Homo sapiens: one gene and its partner. The protein of the gene in region 1 purifies or fractionates together with the protein of each later gene. This does not show direct contact. Each region holds a gene or a part of one and is shown on either strand. Other genes may lie near its edges.

Evidence for each region.
Region 2: the proteins of SDF2 (region 1) and ALS2 purify together in Homo sapiens (affinity purification with mass spectrometry; 2 studies listed by BioGRID and IntAct, with this or other methods). This does not show direct contact.

The regions. Positions count from the first base shown.
Region 1 is NC_000017.11:28,650,402-28,659,707, forward strand, and holds part of SDF2 (stromal cell-derived factor 2 precursor), read right to left. Parts: intron 5,083-9,306; coding exon 4,886-5,082; intron 1,142-4,885; coding exon of another isoform or gene 1,085-1,141; intron 1-1,084.
Region 2 is NC_000002.12:201,755,722-201,765,027, forward strand, and holds part of ALS2 (alsin), read right to left. Parts: intron 7,890-9,306; exon of another isoform or gene 6,993-7,889; intron 6,098-6,992; coding exon 5,160-6,097; coding exon of another isoform or gene 5,082-5,159; exon of another isoform or gene 3,731-5,081; intron 2,039-3,730; coding exon 1,681-2,038; intron 1-1,680. UniProt on the Homo sapiens protein: May act as a GTPase regulator. Controls survival and growth of spinal motoneurons.

The DNA of each region.
Region 1 (9,306 bases):
CCAAACACTTATTTTGCAATTAATACTATAATTGCCTTATATTTTCTATTACAGTGTTAAAACAGAATTTCTTTTTTTTTTCTTTTTAAGAGTTGGGATTGTGGCCAGGTACGGTAGCTCATGCCTGTAATCCCAGTAATTTGGGAGGGCGAGGCGGGCAGATCGCCTGAGGTCAGGAGTTCAAGACCAGCCTGGCCAACATGGTAAAACCCCATCTCTACTAAAAATACAAAAATTAGCCAGGTGTGGTGGCAGGCGCCTGTAATCCCAGCTATTCGGGAGGCTGAAGCAGGAGAATCGCTTGAACCTGGGAGGCGGAGGTTGCCGTGAGCCGAAGGTTGCAGTGAGCCGAGATTGCACCACTGGACTCCAGCCTGGATGACAAGAGTGAGACTTTGTCTCAAAAAAAAAAAAAAAAAAAAAAAAAAAACAGTTAGGGTATCTTGCTCTGTTGCCCAGGCTGGAGTGCAGTGCCTCAAGTGGTCTTATGGCCTCACCTCCTGAGTAGCTAAGACAACAGGCATATACCACCACACCCAGGTAATTAAAAGTTTTTTGGTAGGCAACTGTGTTGCCTTGGCTGGCCTCTAACTCCTGGACTTAAACGATTCTCCCCACTTGGTCTTTTAGGGTGCTGGGATTACAGGTGTGAGCCACCGTGCTGGCTTTAAAATACTTTACTTTTTTGAGACAGCATCTCGCTCTGTCGCCCAGGCTGGAGTGCAATGGCACAATCTCGGCTCTCTGCAACCTCCACCTCTTGGGTTCTCATGCCTCAGCCTCCAGAATAGCTGGGATTACAGGCATGTGCTACCACACCCAGCTAATTTTGGTATTTTTTAATAGAGATGGGGGTTTCACCATGTTGACCAGGCTGGTCTCAAACTCCCAGCCTCAAGTGATCCACCTACCTCAGCGTAGTAAAGTGCTGGGAGTACAGGCATGAGCCACCACATTCTGCCCTTAAAATACTTTATATCTCTTGTTATTTGACTTTAAATATTACTGCTTCATTCTCTTAACTAGATTTTAAATGACCTGATGACAAGTTCAAAAGGGAATGGACTCTGGGAGTCAGGCTGACCTTGAATCTCAACTTGATCCCTTCTTCTGTAAATCCTTTGAGCCTTTGTTTTCTCCTCTATAAAATGATCACAATATCACCTTACAGAGCAACTGTGAGAATTAAATGAGATAGCAAATATTAACTGAGCAAAACATAGCAAGTTTTCTACATTCTTTTCTTTCTTTCTAATAAGGCAGTGAGAGAGAAAGCAAGTTCTCTATATTCTACTCCTCATCTAAATCCCATCTTCCTTAAGGCCAAATATTCAGTTTCTATACGATGGCAATTAAAAAATTACTGATTATTTCAGAAGTGTGTGTGTGTGTGTGTGTGTACACTCTACTTGATAAAATTGTTCCCAGGAGGGTACCAGTATGTAATTCTGATACTGCTATATTTGTATACTGGAACTGAACTGAAGTTCAATACATGGATGGCAGATGGTAGGAACAAGGTATCTTACTGTTGGAGTGGGAATTTACAAATTAGCACAGGGAGGAGGCTAGGACGATCTATGTGGTAATGGATTACAGCTAAAGACATCAATAAGAACACTAGCCAGGCACAGTGGGGCATGCCTGTATCCCCAGCTACTTGGAAGGCTGACGCAAGAGGACTGCTTGAGCCAAGGAGTTCGAGGCTCTAGTGCACTATCATCACACCTGTGAGTAGCCACTGCACTCCAGCCTGAATAACACAGCAAGAACCCATCTTAAAAAAAAAAGAAAAAGAAAAAGAAAGCTCATTTAACTTAATATATGTAGATACAGATGGCTATGCAAATAAAAATTTATAGATATGTAATATATACACGAGTAAGCACACACAGGTAACAATTCTTTATTTTTTTAATTTTTTTTTGAGACAGAGTCTCGCCCTGTCACCCAGGCTGGAATGCAATGGTGCAATCTCGGCTCACTGCAACCTCCGCCTCCCAGGTTCAAACGATTCTCCTACCTCGGCCTCCCAAGTAGCTGGGATCACAGGCTCCCGCCACCATGCCCAGCTAATTTTTGTACTTTAGTAGATACGGGGTTTCACCATGTTAGCCAGGCTGGTCTCGAACTCCTGACCTTGTGATCCACCCACCTCTGCCTCACAAAGTGCCGGGATTATAGGTGTGAGCCACTGCGCCTGGCTTACAGTTATTTATTCTGTCAAGTGAGAGGGCCTAAAAGAAACACTCCAGTAGCAACAAGCTTACATAAGGCCTAGAACTTGGTTTTAATATCATTCTCCAATAAAAGGAAGCAGAGCTCCTTGGAGAAACAGCTGATTCTAGTACTGGAGCAAGAAATAAACAAGATGAGCCTGGAGCATCTTTTGGTGCCAGAAAGGAAAGAAGTGCTTTAAAGTGCAGGCACATATACACAAAAACACAATGGGATACTGCCAATGGACACAAAGCCAGCTGAAAGAATTCCCAATGGCCAAAGTTGGAACAATTTGAGCAACAAAATATAGTAGCATTAGATTATAACGAAGTATAAACTATCCATAAGTTTATACTAATGTAAATAACTGAATAAATAAATAAATTGGGGAAAAGAGACAAATCCCCAATATGGAAAAATCCCAAATAAAATATGTAGATATTCCACCCTAATGTAGACAGAGTATAACTCTCCAGTCTGTAAGAGTGAAATGCACATAGTGACTTTCTTCCAAAAAGTGCATGGAAAGGGGGAAAATGAAAAGAATAACTTTACAGGAGAAACCTAACGAACAAACACTACTTCAGCCAGGTAATCAAGGTCCACATCAACAGTCATAAATCATAAAGATAGTATGTACCCCTGATATGATGGGATACAAATGGCACTTTACCTCTGTGATCTTCCTCCCAAACCCTTTATAAGTCCGGTCTAATCACAAGAAAAACAAATTCCAACAGAGGGGCAATCTACAATACACCTGACCAGCACTCCTCAAAGCTGTCAAGGTCATCAAAAACTAGGGAAGCCTGAAAAACTGTCACAGCCAAGAACAGCCTAATGAGACATGGCAAGTATATGTAATGTGGTATTTTGGAATGGAAAAAGAACATTAGGTAAAAACTAAGGGACCGGGCACGGAGGCCTCACGCCTGTAATCCCAGCAGTTTGGGAGGCCAAGGTGGGTGGATCACAAGGTCAGGAGCTCGAGACCAACCTGGACAACATGGTGAAACCCCGTCTCTACTGAAAATACAAAAATCAGCCGGGCGTGGTGGCAGGCACCTGTAATCCCAGCTACTCAGGAGGCTGTGGCAAGAGAATAGCTTGAACCTGGGAGGCGGAGGTTGCAGTGAGCTGAGATCGCGCCATAGCACTCCAGCCTGGGACAGAGCGAGACTCTGTCTCAAAAAACAAAACAAAACAAAACAAAACAAGGGAATCAGAAAAAAACTATGGTCTTTAGTTAATAAAACTGTATCAATATTGCTTCATTAAATATAGCAAATTTACCCTTCGAAGGTAAGATATTAATAGGGAAAACTGCATACAGGGGCTGGGGACAGGGAAGGAGTCATTAAGGTGTCCACATCCCCTGACAACTCAAGGCTTAAAACAGTGGCACAAGGCTGGGTGTACTGGCTTATGCTTGTAATCCCAGCACTTTGGGAGGCTGAGGCAGGCAGATAGCTTGAGCTCAGGAGTTTGAGACCAGCCTAGGCAACATGGCAAAACCCCGTATCTACCAAAAAAAATACAAAAATTAGCCAGGCATGGTGGCGTGAGCCTGTAGTGAGGGCTGAGGTGGGAGAATTGCTTGAGCCCAGGAGGCTGAGGCTGCAGTGAGCAAGATCACACTACAACCTGGGTGACAGAGCAAGACCCTGTTTAAAAACAAAAAACAGTGACACAAAAGCAAATCTATTTTCCTAATGTAACTAGTTAGCATCATTAAAAAAAAAAAAAACACTGCAAGTTGGAAAACATTGGGTTTCTTTATTGCAGAATATCAGAACTTATGATATGCTGATGTATACCCAGTCTGTCTGTCCTTCCCATTTCTTGATTTGGTTTAGTTGTTGTCTCCACTTTGACCAGAAACAATTTTCTTCACACTTATAAAACAAAGCCGGCTGGGTGCAGTGGCTCATGCCTATAATCCCAACACTTCCAGGAGGCAGAGGCGGGTGGATCACCTGAGGTCAGGAGTTCGAGACCAGCCTGACCAATATGGTGAAAACCCATCTCTACTAAAAATACAAAAATCAGGCCAGGCGCGGTGACTTGCACTTGTAATCCCAGCACTTTGGGAGGCCGAAGTGGGCAGATCACAAGGTCAGGAGTTCGAGACCAGCCTGGCCAACACAGTGAAACCCCATCTCTACTAAAAATACAAAAAAAAAAATTAGCCAGGTGTGGTGGCACACGCCTGTAGTCCCAGCCACTCGGGCAGCTGAGGTGGGAGAACCGCTTGAACGCAGGAGGCAGAGGTTGCAATGAGCTGAGACCATGCCATTGCACTCCAGCCTGGGTGACAGAGTGAGACTCCATCTCAAAAAAATAAAAATAAAAACAAAAATTAGCCAGGCATGGTGGCATGCGCCTGTAATCCCAGCTACTTGGGAGACTGAGGCAGGAGACTTGCTTGAACCCAGAGGCGGAGGTTGCAGTGAGCCAAGATCATGCCACTGCACTGCAGCCTGGGTGACAGAGTGAGACTGCGTCTCAAAAACAACAAAAACCCACACAAAAATAGAGCCATTTCCCCAGGTCTGCACAAAAGAGAACATCTACACCTAGAAAAGAAACATTTAAGAACCAAGAGATCAAACAAGCACCCACTGAGTAATGCAGAGCAGCAACAATCCATCGAAAGCCACCTCACCTGGTTTCCAGAAAGAGGTGAAGTGAAGTGGTGACTATGGAGGTTTCGGCCAGTGTTGACATGTGTCAGCCGGATGGGCTGGCCACACTTGATGGGGGTTCCCCTCTCACACACTGTGGCACTCTTCCCCCGTATCCTCCAGTAACTGTTGCTGTCATCCACAGAGGTTACACCTGTCACTGACTGCTGCCCACTACCTGCAGTTAAGAAAAGAAAGGCAACTCTCTTTCTCTGCCATGGACAACATGCTCAGAGACAGAAGCTTGAGTGCGCTCAAGATTCACCTTCACCTGTAACCCACCACCATGACCAAGGAAGACACGCTGCTGGAGGTGTAATGGATATTAATACTGCTCTACAAGAGACTGAAGACCGCCCTCAGCCATGATGGCCTAGCAGGTGGAACCTGCAAAGCTGCCAAAGCCTTAGACAAGGGCCAAGCCCATCTTTGCGTGCTTGCATCCAAATGTGAAGAGCCTATGTATGTCAAGCTAGGGGTGGCCCTTTGTGCCGAACACCAAATCAACCCAATTAAGGTTGATGACCTTAAGAAACCAGAGACATGGCTAAGCCTTTGTAAAACTGATAGACAAGGAAAACTTTGTAAAGTGGTTGGTTGCAGTTGTGTCACAGTGAAGGGCTACAGCAAAGAATTTCAGGCCAAGGATGTGACTGTGTACTTCAAATGCAAGAAATTAACAAATAAATTTGGTACCCATTCCTCAAAAAAAAAAACAGCAAGTGAGCTCAGCCTCACCCTTCTTGCCTATGGCCAATATTGTGCCGTGTCATTAAACAGGTAAGAAGGGGTGGGGAGAAAAATGCTATGCTTGGCAATATTTTTTCTTCTACAACATTAAAATATTTATAAAAAATACAAATCATACTGGGCGTGGTGGCTCACGCTTGTAATCCCAGCACTCTGGGAGTGAAACTTGACCTCCCAAAGTGCTGGGATTGATGGTGAGCCACTGTGCCCAGCCTTTTTCTTCTTTTAAATAAAAAAAAAATTTTTTAGGCTGGGTGTGGTGGCTCACACCTGTAATCCTAGCACTTTTTGGGAGGCTGAGGCAGTTGGATTGCTTGAGCCCAGGAATTCAAGACCAGCCTGGGCAACATGGCAAAAACCCATCTTTACTAAAAATACAAAAATTAGCTGGGTGTGGTGGTGGCAGCCTGTAATCCCAGCTATCTGGGAGGCTGAGGTGGGAGAATCGCTTGAACCCGGGAGGTGGAGGTTGCAATGAGCCAAGATCGCGCCACTGCCCTCCAGCCTGGATGACAGAGCCAGACTCCGTCTCAAAAAAAATAAATAAATAAACTGTGTCCACGTAATACTAGTTACTATATGATAAAGTATACTTAAGGGTATGTCATATCAGAAAATTCTAAGAATTTGCATCAAAGGATATCCAAGGCACAAATCTATGTGAGTTTTTTGAGGCACAGGCAGTGGTAACCTATACACACTAGCCTGGATAGCCCCTAATGTGTCTAATCACATAATTTTAACATGTTTGTAATATTATTCATGTTCATTAACTATTATGATAAAAATTTTTGTATTTCACAATTAAAATGAGACTATGTTGCCAACTTTAAGCAGCCATTACAGCTCCCAACTCCCATAAGTGGTCAATTATTATAAACGTATTATTTAAGCAAGGCACGGTGGCTCACGCCTGTAATCCCAGCACTTTGGGAGGCTGAGGCAGGCAGAACACAAAGTCATGAGTTCGAGACCAGCCTGGCCAATATGGTGAAACCCCGTCTCTACTAAAAATATAAAAATTAGCTGGGCGTGGTCGCATGTGCCTGTAATCCCAGCTACTTGGGAGGCTGAGGCAGAAGAATTGCTTGCATCCGGGAGGCGGAGGTTGCAGTGAGCCGAGATCACACCACCGCACTCCAGCCTAGGTGGCAGGGCAAGACTCTGTCTCAAAACAAAAACAAAAACAAAACAAAAAATGTATCCTTGGAGGTCTGGCACAGTGGCTCATGCCTGTAATCCAAGCGCTTTGGGAAGGTGAGGGGAGGATCCCTTGAGTCCAGGAGTTCGAGACTAGCCTCAGCAACATAGCAAAATGCAGTCTCTAAACGTACATATATATATATGTATTTTTTTTTTTTGATACAGGATCCCTCTTGTCACTCAGGCTGGAGTGCAGTGGCACGATCACAGCTCGCCACAGCCTTGACCTCCCAGGCTCGGGTGATCCTCCTACCTCAGCCTCCCAAGTAGCTGGGATTTCAGGCGCCTGCCACCACACCTGGCTAATTTTTCTATTTTTTGTAGAGATGGGTTTTTGCCATGTTGCCCAGGCTACTCTCGAATTCCTGGGCTCAAGCAATCCAACTGCCTCAGCCTCCCAAAGTGCTAGGATTACAGATGTGAGCCACCACACCCAGCCTAAAAAAAAATTTTTATATTTAAAAGAAAAAAAAGAAGCTGGGCACAGTGGCTCACCGTCAATCCCAGCACTTTGGGAGGTCAAGGTGGGCAGATCGCTTGAGCCCAGGAATTCAAGACCAAGCCTAAGCAACTGACAAAACTCCATCTCTACAAAAGATGCAAAAAATTAATCAGGTGTGGTGGGGTGCACTTGTAGTCCCAGCTACTCAGGACGCTGAGATGTGAGGATTGCTTGAGCCCAGGAGGTCAAGGCTGCAATGAGTCGTAATTGTGTCACTGCCAGTTACACGGGTAAATGTAGCCAACTATCAGCTCCTTTCATGACTTTATTATATCTTTTTTCAGAAAAGGCAAACCAAGTCTCCCTTCCTACTTCTGGTTACTGCCTTACAGCTCTCTGGGTCCTCACAGCCACGCTTCACTAAACCATGGTCTACATTTTGTCTCCTACATTTTCTGCTTTCTATTCAACCGTTCACTTCTTCCTCCAAATCCTTATACCTTGGGATTATCCAAAGTTCTATGCCTGGCCTTCATCTGTTTCTACCTGTAGTTTTTTTTTTTTTTTTTAGTATTTATTGTTCATTCTTGGGTGTTTCTCGGAGAGGGGGATGTGGCAGGGTCACAGGATAATAGTGGAGAGAAGGTCAGCAGATAAACATGTGAACAAAGGTCTCTGGTTTTCCTAGGCAGAGGTCCCTGCGGCCTTCCGCAGTGTTTGTGTCCCTGGGTACTTGAGATTAGGGAGTGGTGATGACTCTTAACGAGCATGCTGCCTTCAAGTATCTGTTTAACAAAGCACATCTTGCACCACCCTTAATCCATTTAACCCTGAGTTGACACAGCACACGTTTCAGAGAGCACGGGGTTGGGGGTAAGGTTATAGATTAACAGCATCCCAAAGCTGAAGAATTTTTCTTAGTACAGAACAAAATGGAGTCTCCTATGTCTACTTCTTTCTACACAGACACAGTAACAATCTGATCTCTCTTTCTTTTCCCCACATTTCCCCCTTTTCTTTTCGACAAAACCGCCATCGTCATCATGGCCCATTCTCGATGGTCGCTGTCTCTTCGGTGCTGTTGGGTACACCTGCAGAAAGGCTGTCACTTCACACTTGGAAGACTGCACAGCGGCCAGGCAGAGGCGCTCCTCACTTCCCAGACGGGGCGGCCGGGCAGAGGCACTCCTCACTTCCCAGACAGGGTGGCCGGGCAGAGGAGCTCCTCACTTAACAGACTGGGTGGCCGGGCAGAGGCGCTCCTCACATCCCAGACGATGGGAGGCCGGACAGAGGCGCTCCTCCCCTCCCAGACGGGGCGGCCGTGCAGAGGCGCTCCTCACTTCCTAGATGGGACAGCCAGGCAGAGGTGCTCCTCAACTCCCAGACGAAGGGCGGCCGGGCAGAGGCGCTCCTCACATCCCAGACAATGGGCGGCCGGGCAGAGGCGCTCCTCACTTCCCAGACAGGGTGGCGGCCGGGCAGAGGCGCTCCTCACATCCCAGACGGGGTGGCGGCCAGGCAGAGGCGCTCCCCACTTCCCAGACGGGGCGGCTGGGCAGAGGCGCTCCCCACTTCCCAGACGGGGCAGCCGGGCAGAGGCGCTCCCCACTTCCCAGACAGGGCGGCCGGGCAGAGGCGCTCCCCACTTCCCAGACGGGGCAGCCGGGCAGAGGCGCTCCCCACTTCCCAGATGGGGTGGCGGCCGGGCAGAGGCGCTCCTCACATCCCAGACAGGGCGGCCAGGTGCTCCCCACTTCCCAGATGGGGTGGCCGGGCAGAGGTGCTCCTCACCTCCCAGATAATGGGCAGCCCACTTCCCAGATGGGGTGGCAGCCGGGCAAAGGCACTCCTCACATCCCAGATGGCGCGGCCGGGCAGAGGCGCTCCTCACTTCCCAGACGGGGCGGCCAGGCAGAGGCGCTCCTCACTTCCTAGACAGGGCGGCCAGGCAGAGACGCTCCTCACATCCCAGACAGGGTGATGGCCGGGCAGAGGTGCTCCTCA
Region 2 (9,306 bases), on another chromosome or scaffold:
GCCTATTTCAAATTATTTTACAGAGATGTTAAAAAATGTTTTAAAAGAACATTGCCATCTTTTATAGTGTTCAAAATTACATCAAACACACACAACACTATGTGAATAGTGTTTGATGCCAGGATAAGATTTGAAGAAAATCATCAAATGTCACTCAGTAGAGACTTAGTCATTAGGTCATTAACTTGAGGGCCACAAGAAAGTGATCATCACTGCCTAATATCAACATCTTTTCTGGTGAATGTATCGTTTCTATGCATACGGAGACTCAAATAAACCTACTTGAAGATTCCTCAAGGATGTACTCCAGATAATTCTTAGAGAGGGGGAAAAGAGTACATGTAAAATTTTTCGAAAGATACTTTAGGTTACTAAGTAAAATTTAACCATAGGATATAAGTCTATTAGTGGGATTCATGATGTAATGATATGAAAAAATATTCCACATTTGTAGTTCAAAGAGATTGCAAATATATTTATATACTTAAAATGCTAAAGGACACTTAAGAATAAGAAAAGTTTGGTGCAAGATTCTCCTTCAGATTTAATAGAGATCATAGGCCTTCTTATACATCATATATATTATATATATATACATATATATTCACATTAATCATGACTTAAGTTTTATTTGTGTAGAGGAAAATCTGGTGGTAATGAGAATTAAGAGTGGCACAAGAGTGTTCAGTAAGTAGAACAAGGGGAGAAACAGGTGCAGAGTAAAAAAGGTAAGTTTTAGTACAGTCTAGAATTCCTAACTTTTGAGCTTTGCACAAAATCATGTAAACCAGGAGTTGGTCAATTATAGCCCATGGCCAAACAGGGCCTACCATATGTTTTTGTAAATAAAGTTTTGTTGGGATATAGCTTCACTCATTCATTACATATTGTCTCTGGCTGCTTTTACATAACCACAGCGTAGCTGAGTAGTTGTCACAGAGACAGGATGTCCTACAAACCTTAAAATATTTCTCTTTGGCTCTTTACAGAAAAAGTCTGCCAAATCCTGGTCTCATCAAATGCTTCTCAGACTTTAGTGTGCATACTAATCACCTGGGGGACCTTGCTCTAATGCATGTTTTGATTCAGTAAGTCGAGAGTGGAACCTGAGAGTCTGCGTTTGTAACAAGTTCCCAGATGCTGCTGATGCTGCTGGTCTGCAGGCCACTCTTGAGAAGCATTAAGTCCAGATGGCTGAGACTGCTGAACTGATTGAGAAAAGGAGAAGAACCAACTGCATAATATTCTAAAAAGTTTATTGCCTATGGTCTCAGAAAATGAAATTTTCTCTTCTTGAAGCTTAAGAATTCTCTCCTCTTTCAAGTCAAGTACAGTAATTCACTTATCCAATGGTCGCATCTCCAACCTCATCGATCTGGAGTATCGGTCCCAATTAGGAAATAAGAAGGGTACTGTAACACTCCAGAACAATAAAATAAGATTCACAATAAGGTTCATAAGCAGGAGCAAACATCAAGAAAAAGTGACGTTCTAACTTTATAGTGATATCTAAAGCAGATAAACATGTAACTTTCTTTTAAAACCACCATTAAATAAATATTCACATTTGAATATGTCAGCTTCATAATTAGGACAGCTTTTTTAATAATACAGCATGCGATGTCAGGAGCATCCTGGATTCCCCAAAAGTCAATTCACAAAACCTAGTTATTTCCTTACCTTGTGACAACAATCCAGGGAGGGAGAGTCTTCGACTGCCTCCCTCTGTTTCTTCTTCTCTGATATCCACAAGACTTGAACTTTTCTTTCCTTGCATTGATTCCTGTTTAACCTGTTCTTCCCTGCTATCTTTCAAACCTTCGGGGCCAATGGCACTACTGCCTGCCTGAGCTCCAGTTTCACAAGGGGTTGTACTATAAAAGTTCATAACTTTCTTCAGTGACAAGGCACCAGCTTCATAAGTAGCAGCCACTCTCACACCAACAGCAGATGCACAAGAGACCACCAGGCTGTTTAGGGCTGAGGTGCTTGTGGTAGGCGGGCTGTGGAGATTAGGAATTGCTTCTTCTAAAAGAGGCTAAAATATACACACATAAAAAATTATATAAAAATATAATCCCTTATGCAACAAGCAATCAATAAAAAGAAAGGCTAATATCCATCGCTATTTGCATGTAAGAATCTAAAACGACAGAAGTTCTCTTCATCTTCAACTAAAGGTATTCTCTTCTTGATCATGGAGTTAACACATTAAATGGAAATGAGTACTCAAAATACAGTTCCTTCTCCAAAGTACTTCCTTTTGTCTAGATGTTGTGTTTTTCTATGGTATTTCAAAATAAGCCTCGGCTGCTTTTATAAAATTAAACACAGTAAAAAGGGAGGGAGAAGAAAAGGCATGGAAAACACTGCCTTTAATGCCAAGTGCACTGTGACAGCCCTGGACAGAAGATTGAAAAAATGCAAATTTCATTATTGATCCCTTTCAGGAAAATTTATACAGACTACTACCTAGAAGTGGCAGGAAAAAAATTAGATTTTATGAAGAAAAAAAAAGCTTTCCCTGAAATGCTTTATAAATTGAAATTTAGATATAGCATATGGAGATGGAAAAATAAGTTATACCTGTAACCTATCATCTCCCAAATTATGCTCAACTCGAGTGCCTTTACTGGCTCATCAATGAGTTATTTTCTATGACCCAGGGGCTAGAAAAGCTGTAGGATTACCTTTGCTCTTGCTACCACAGATGGCAAATGTGGTAGGTTAATAATTAAACATTTGGAACCAGTGTTCTTAGTGTGATTCTAGAAGTGTACTAGAAAGTCAAACTAAAGTTTTCTGATATCTTAATGAAAAAATCAGTTGAAATTTACTCTAAGCTGTCAAACATCATTGTTCCCTAAAAAGGAAGGTCATTAAATGTACCTACCAAACACATAAAAAAGCTTTCAGCTCATCAGCATAGATCATATTGAAAAATTTGCTTCTTATTGTACCCAAAGATCTCAAAGGGAATATACACATTCCTTCATTTGTCCTAAACTAAAATACAAATATAATGTGTGTGTGTGCGCATGTGTGTGTGTGTGTGTGTGTGTGTTTGTTTGTATATTTTAACATTGGCATCTGACTTCCTAAAGGAAATAATTCCTGGTACCTAGCGAAGTGCCTGACATGTAAGTACTCAAAACATTTTGTTGAATTAAACGCTAAATTCAAAAGAGCTATTTCCATGCAAATTAGTCTGTAAATAGTCAATAAACAAATATACTTAATAAAACGAAAAAGAAATACAAAGCCTATTACTTCTTTGGTGATACAGCTCCCACGATAGCTTGTTCAGAAGAACTAGTGTCACTATGTCCACTTTTTGTTTACAAAGGCTCCTTACATAAGCAGTGATGGTATTTAGAGGTAACTATTTTAGGGGGTTCTTAACCACTAGGTACAGCAAAGTCACAAAACTCTACCTTATATAAACCTTGAACTACTGTTCTAACTGGCTCCTTCTACTTAATTATATTTAAAAATATAGTAATAAGCCCTCCCCTACAAAAAACATAATTAGCAATTTTGATGAAATATATAATTTTAGGAGTTCCAGTCAACCAGTAATACTTTGGTTTATTTCCCAAGTGAGAGAGTCTCAGTTATATCTCGCCAGAAGAGAAAAAACTTGCCCTAAAACAAATAAATTCCTTGTGAATTAGCTGTATGATTGAGATGTTATTTACAAAGAATAAATTAAATGTAATAGAAACACACATTTAATTTAAATAAATTAAATTTAATTCAATAGAAACACACACATTGTTACTAGCATAAGTAACAAAAACTTCCAATGTTTAACAAAGTAAGTAAAATGTGATAAGCATGTACAGTCTAAGAATTTTCTACATGCATTCTTGTTAAACTACTACTTTTGCTTTGTTCAGACTTTATAATACCTTTCTCCAAACAGCTTATCCTTGATTTTTTTAAAAATTCAAATACCCACAAGTTTCAGTGAATAGATTGTGAAATAAAGACTATTTCTAAAAATACCTTCATGTTCACATTCTGACAGAGTAAACAATAAGAATTGAGAATCAAGAGGCTATGTGGTTTCAAAAACCTAAAAAGAAACACTGCAGGACAGATCTTTTATGAGTATGATCTTTTGTTTTGTTTTCTTACAGTTTTGGTAAAGCAAAATCAAAAGGCCACACTAAGAGTAAAACACAGAAATAATCCTTTTAAAACAATTTAGTTTAAGCGGGAACTCAAACTTTACCATGTGCTACTGATAAACAACTTTTGTTCATTCTACCACAAATCTTCAAAATGAAAATAGTTTTAATAAGATATATAAAATAGGCTGGGCATGATGGCTCATGCCTGTAATCTCAACACTTTGGGAGGCTGAGGTGGGAGGATTGCTTGAGCTCAGGAGTTTGAGATGAGCCTGGGCAACAGGCTCTACTCTACTTAAAAATAAAATCAGCAGGTGTGGTGGCATGTGTATAGTCCCAGCTACTTGGAAGGCTGAAATGGGAGGATCGCTTGAACCTGGGAGATCGAGGCTGCAGTGAGCCACAATCGCATTACTGCACTCCAGCCTGGGTGACAGAGCAAGACCCCATCTCAAAAACAAACAAACAAAAAGATAAAATATTAGCCACCTCTTCAAATTAAGCCCAGTAAGGACCACAGCTATAATTGAAAAAAACTGAAACATGTAATTGCCTGTAAGTTTTAAATCTGCCTACAATTGAAGGATCTGCCACAAAACAATCTTCCCTGTTAAAGAAGGAAAAGACTTTTCTCTACAGAATTCTGAAGAGTGTTACAAACACAAGTAAGAAGAATCTTTGTGAATCTCTAGTTATATTAAACTATTCAGGGCCCACCAAAATTCAGTACTTTAGCCATAGAAAAAAAGTACTAGCAAGAAAAAAAAATGAAATGCTCCTACTTATAAAACAAGCCCAACATGACACCTTTCAATATCATAAAGGGCCAGAACAAACATAAAGAGTGATTTTGAATTAATCCAGGTTCTTTCCTTTATCTAGGCTTGCCTGATAAAACAAAATTATAATCAAACTCAAAAAATAAAAAATGCTACCAAGCCTTACTCATTTTAAAGTTTCTAAAGAAAAGCCCATACAGTTCAACTCTAGACACACTTTTATTTTATAAAATTGAGCAGGTACCTGAGATGGCACTGGCTTTTCACCATGCTCTGAGTCCTCTCTTACTGAATGATCTGACAGTTTCCGTAGGTATTCATTGACTGCTTGGGTGTCAGGGTATGATGGTATGTTTCTGGCAGAGGAAATTTCAGTTGTTCCCATGACATTTTGTTGAGAGGACATGGCATCGCTGCTTGTGATCTGAGCACTTACTGCATTCAGTTCAGTAGCAACAGACTGATCATTTGCTACAAGAGTGTTCTCAAATACTTCTTCCTGCCTGTCAAGGGTTTCAGTGGAGGGGCTGAGAGCAGTGCTGGCATGGTTTTCTGCCTGAGATTCTGTCAGTGTCACACCTAATGGGCAACAATGACTGTCTGATATAATCACATGGTCTTCTTTGTCAGTCATAGTAATCAAGAGCTGGCTGCACTGGTTGCATCGTTCTGGGACTGGCTTCAGATCCTGGGAAGGGAGGCATTGTACAAGGGCTAAGCTGTGGAAAGCACCACAGGCAACTTGAAGCACCACTCGCCCAGCAAGATGTTCTACCTTTTGCGGCTTTGTCACTGGGAAGGCAGTGGTAATGAGACCCAACTGACAACCGGTACCCCATGCCCAAATCTCTCTGCTTATTGACAATGCCAGAGTGTGCTCCTCGCCACACGCCAACTGTAAAATCCTGACTGCTAACAAAGGGCTGGCCTCAGAATCAGCAATGCTGACAGGATTTGGTTCCGGCACATACTGCTGGTTGGCTACTGCACACTGGCCAGCAGAATTCTCTCCCCACATGTACGCGACACCATTGTCTGTCACTGCTCCACTATGGAAGCTTCCTGTTGCCACAGTAATAACATATTGCCCAACCAGGGCATTTTCTAGAATGGGGCTACTTGGACAAATCTCCACTGGTCCACTTCTCCAGGGAAGAGTCCCAAAGCTGTAGACCTCACCATCTGAAGGTTAAAAAAAAGAAAAAAGAAAAAAAAAAGGGTTAGTGAATTAACTAAAAATTTTAACAGCAAACTTTTAGTCCCCTATAGATTTAACCAAATTGGATTTTCTTTTTAAATTTTCAAAAGCAGTTGTAGAAATCTGGTTCAAGCACACAGTATTTCACATTAATTCATCTTTTTAAAAATGACTCTTTTTAATATTCTGCACTATAGTGAGAATTTCTACAAAGTGCAGGAGGCTAATCCTTTCCTTCAGCCTCATCCTACAAACTCCTCACATCAATCCACTCCTAACGGCCATCATCCAGGCTATTATAGAAACAGATTCCAAGTGTTCAAAGGCAAAATAAATAACCATGTTAAGATAAAATAAGCAAAAAATAAGACAAAACAGACACATTCACTAATATCTACAATTCACTACTACTAAACAAGTTGGAACAGCAAAAAATTATGCAATGGCTTAAAAATATTAGCGATTCATTTTGGCCAAAACTAAGAAATTAACTTTATGCCTCTAGGCTGTACAGGAAGCACCAGTTCTTAACAAGACATGGCTGTCTTCACTTTGTATGTCACATTATATATAGTTTTGAGATGTTACATAAATATACAGGTTGAGTATCACTTATCCAAAATGCTTGGGACCAGAGGTGTTTTGGATTTCAGGTCCAGGTTTTGGAATATTTGCCTTATGCTTACTGACTGAGCATCCCAAATCTGAATGTTCCAATGAGCATTTCCTTTGAGCACCATCACATCAGCACTCAGAAAGTTCTGGATTTTGGATCATTTTAGATTTCAGATTTTTTAATGTGGGATGCTCACCCTGGACTTTATGTACTAGATACTAGCTAGTCTTTCTGAGGTGAGATTTGTTTAAAAAGCAAATCAGCTTCTTCTCTGAAAAAACATCAAATGGCAGATGAAGCTAGGGCAGCAGGAGGGCCCAGAGGCCCCAGAGACCCTGGGATGGGGAACCACAGTGACTTCCATGGAGGCTTGGGCAGTGGCATCTGGGGCCAGGGTCGGGGCCACAGAGCTCAAGGAGGCAAGGCTGAGGATAAGGAGTGGACACCCATGACCAAGCTGAGCTGCCTGGTCAAAGACACGAAGATGAAGTCCTGCTGAAAACCTATCACTTCTCCCTGCCCATCAAGGAGTCTGAGATCATTGACTTTTTCCTGGGGACCTCTCTCAAGGATGAGGTTTTGAAGATTGTGCCAGTGCAGAAGCAGACGCGCACTGGCCAGCACACCAGATTCCAGGTGTTTGTTGCCACTGGGGACTACAATGGCCACTTGCTCCAAGGAGGTGGCCACTGCCATCCAAGGGACTATCATCCTGGCCAAGCTCTCCAATGTCCCCGTGCACAGAGGCTACTGGGGGAACAAGATCAGCAAGCACCACGCAGTCCCTTGCAAGGTGACAGACTGCTGTGGCTTTGTGCTGGTGCGCCTCATCCCTGCACCCAGAGGCACTGGCATTCTCTTAGCCCTAGTGCCCAAGAAGCTGCTGATGATGGCCAGTATCGATGACTGCTACTCCTCAGCCAGGGGCTGCACTGCCACCCTGGCCAACTTCACCAAGGCCACCTATGATGCCATCTCCAAGACCTACAGCTAACTGGCCCCCAACCTCTGGAAGGAGACTGTATTCACCAAGTCTCCGTATCAGGAATTCACTGGCCACCTCGTCAAGACCCACACCAGAGTCTCCAGACAGAGGACCCAGGCTCTAGCTGTGGCTACAACATAGGGTTTTTATACAAGAAAAATAAAGTGAAGTAAGCCTAAAAAATGTTAAAAATAAAAAGCAAATCATCACAACAGAACAAAGCAAAAAAGCAAATGAACCTGTCAGAATAACTGGCTAGCTTTAGAATTAATGAAAGGCACCAGTGAGTTGGGTATATAAATAACTCATGTATGTCCAGCTATGCTACCAAGTCTTAATTTTACTGTAGTATTGTGGGAGCTTGGGAGCAGGTACACATAAGCTATGCTGGCTAAAAATTCAATGAAACAAAGACTTGGCTACGGGTTTTAAAAAATACTGAGCCAAGCCCACTATCCTTTCTTTTCCATATGACCAGAGATTTATGATTTTTTTTAATTAATGAAGAAATAAGCACTGTTTTTTTTCTCATAAGGCAGCAATTGAGTTGATGATGAAAACATGCAAACTTTATCTTTGACCTATTATACATGGCAGATACATGTATACACTCAAGTTAACTCATCACATCATCTATATAAGTAAGGACTCAATAGTGGCTACAGGGAAGATATGTGCATTTATTAGGAAATGTATAGTCTGGTTCAAGAATACTGACATGAGAAAATAAGCTCACTGGTTAAGCTCTTTTAAACTTTGTTTCCTAATACAACAGTATACTTGAAAAAGCTCACCAAGTCTTTCAATTAACATTATTCCACTAGAAAGAGCAATACTGCAAAGAAATGGATATTTAGATCCCTCTCCTTAAAAAACAAAAACAAAAACTGGAGCATATAAAAAATAGTGAAACAGGCTGGGTGCAGTGGCTCACGCCTGTAATCCCAGCACTTTGGGAGGCAGAGGCAGGCGAATCACTAGGTCAGGAGTTTGAGACCAGCCTGGCCAATATGGTGAAACCCTGTCTCTACTAAAAATACAAAAAAAAAAGAGCCAGGAGTGCTGGCACTGGCCTGTAGTCCCAGCTACTCGGGAGGCTGAGGCAGAAGAATTGCTTAAACCCAGGAGGTGGAGGTTGCAGTGAGCTGAGATCGTGCCACCACACTCCAGCCAGGGCAACAGAGCGAGACTCCGTCTCAAAATAAATAAATAAATAAATAAATAAATAAATAAATAAATAAATAAATAAAAGTGAATCAATGAGGTATCTTCATTGAATTATGAGCTAATGGTCATATTTAATAGAGATGAAGAACCTTGAAAATTTCTAGCACTCAACCATTTCCTCAGCTGGAAAAGATAGCACTGGAGGTCCGTATGCAATTTCAAACATACACTTGTGTTAGACGACGTTTTCTTTTGGTAACTGTGACACTTAATACCAGGACACTGCTTAAACATGAATAACGATAGGCTATTTAAATATTTTTGAAAAGTTTTCCTTCAGTTGTCCTAGCCTTGAAGGTATGATTCTAAAGATACCATGTTTATAGTCGAATAACTTTTTTTTTTTTTTGAGACAGGATCTTACT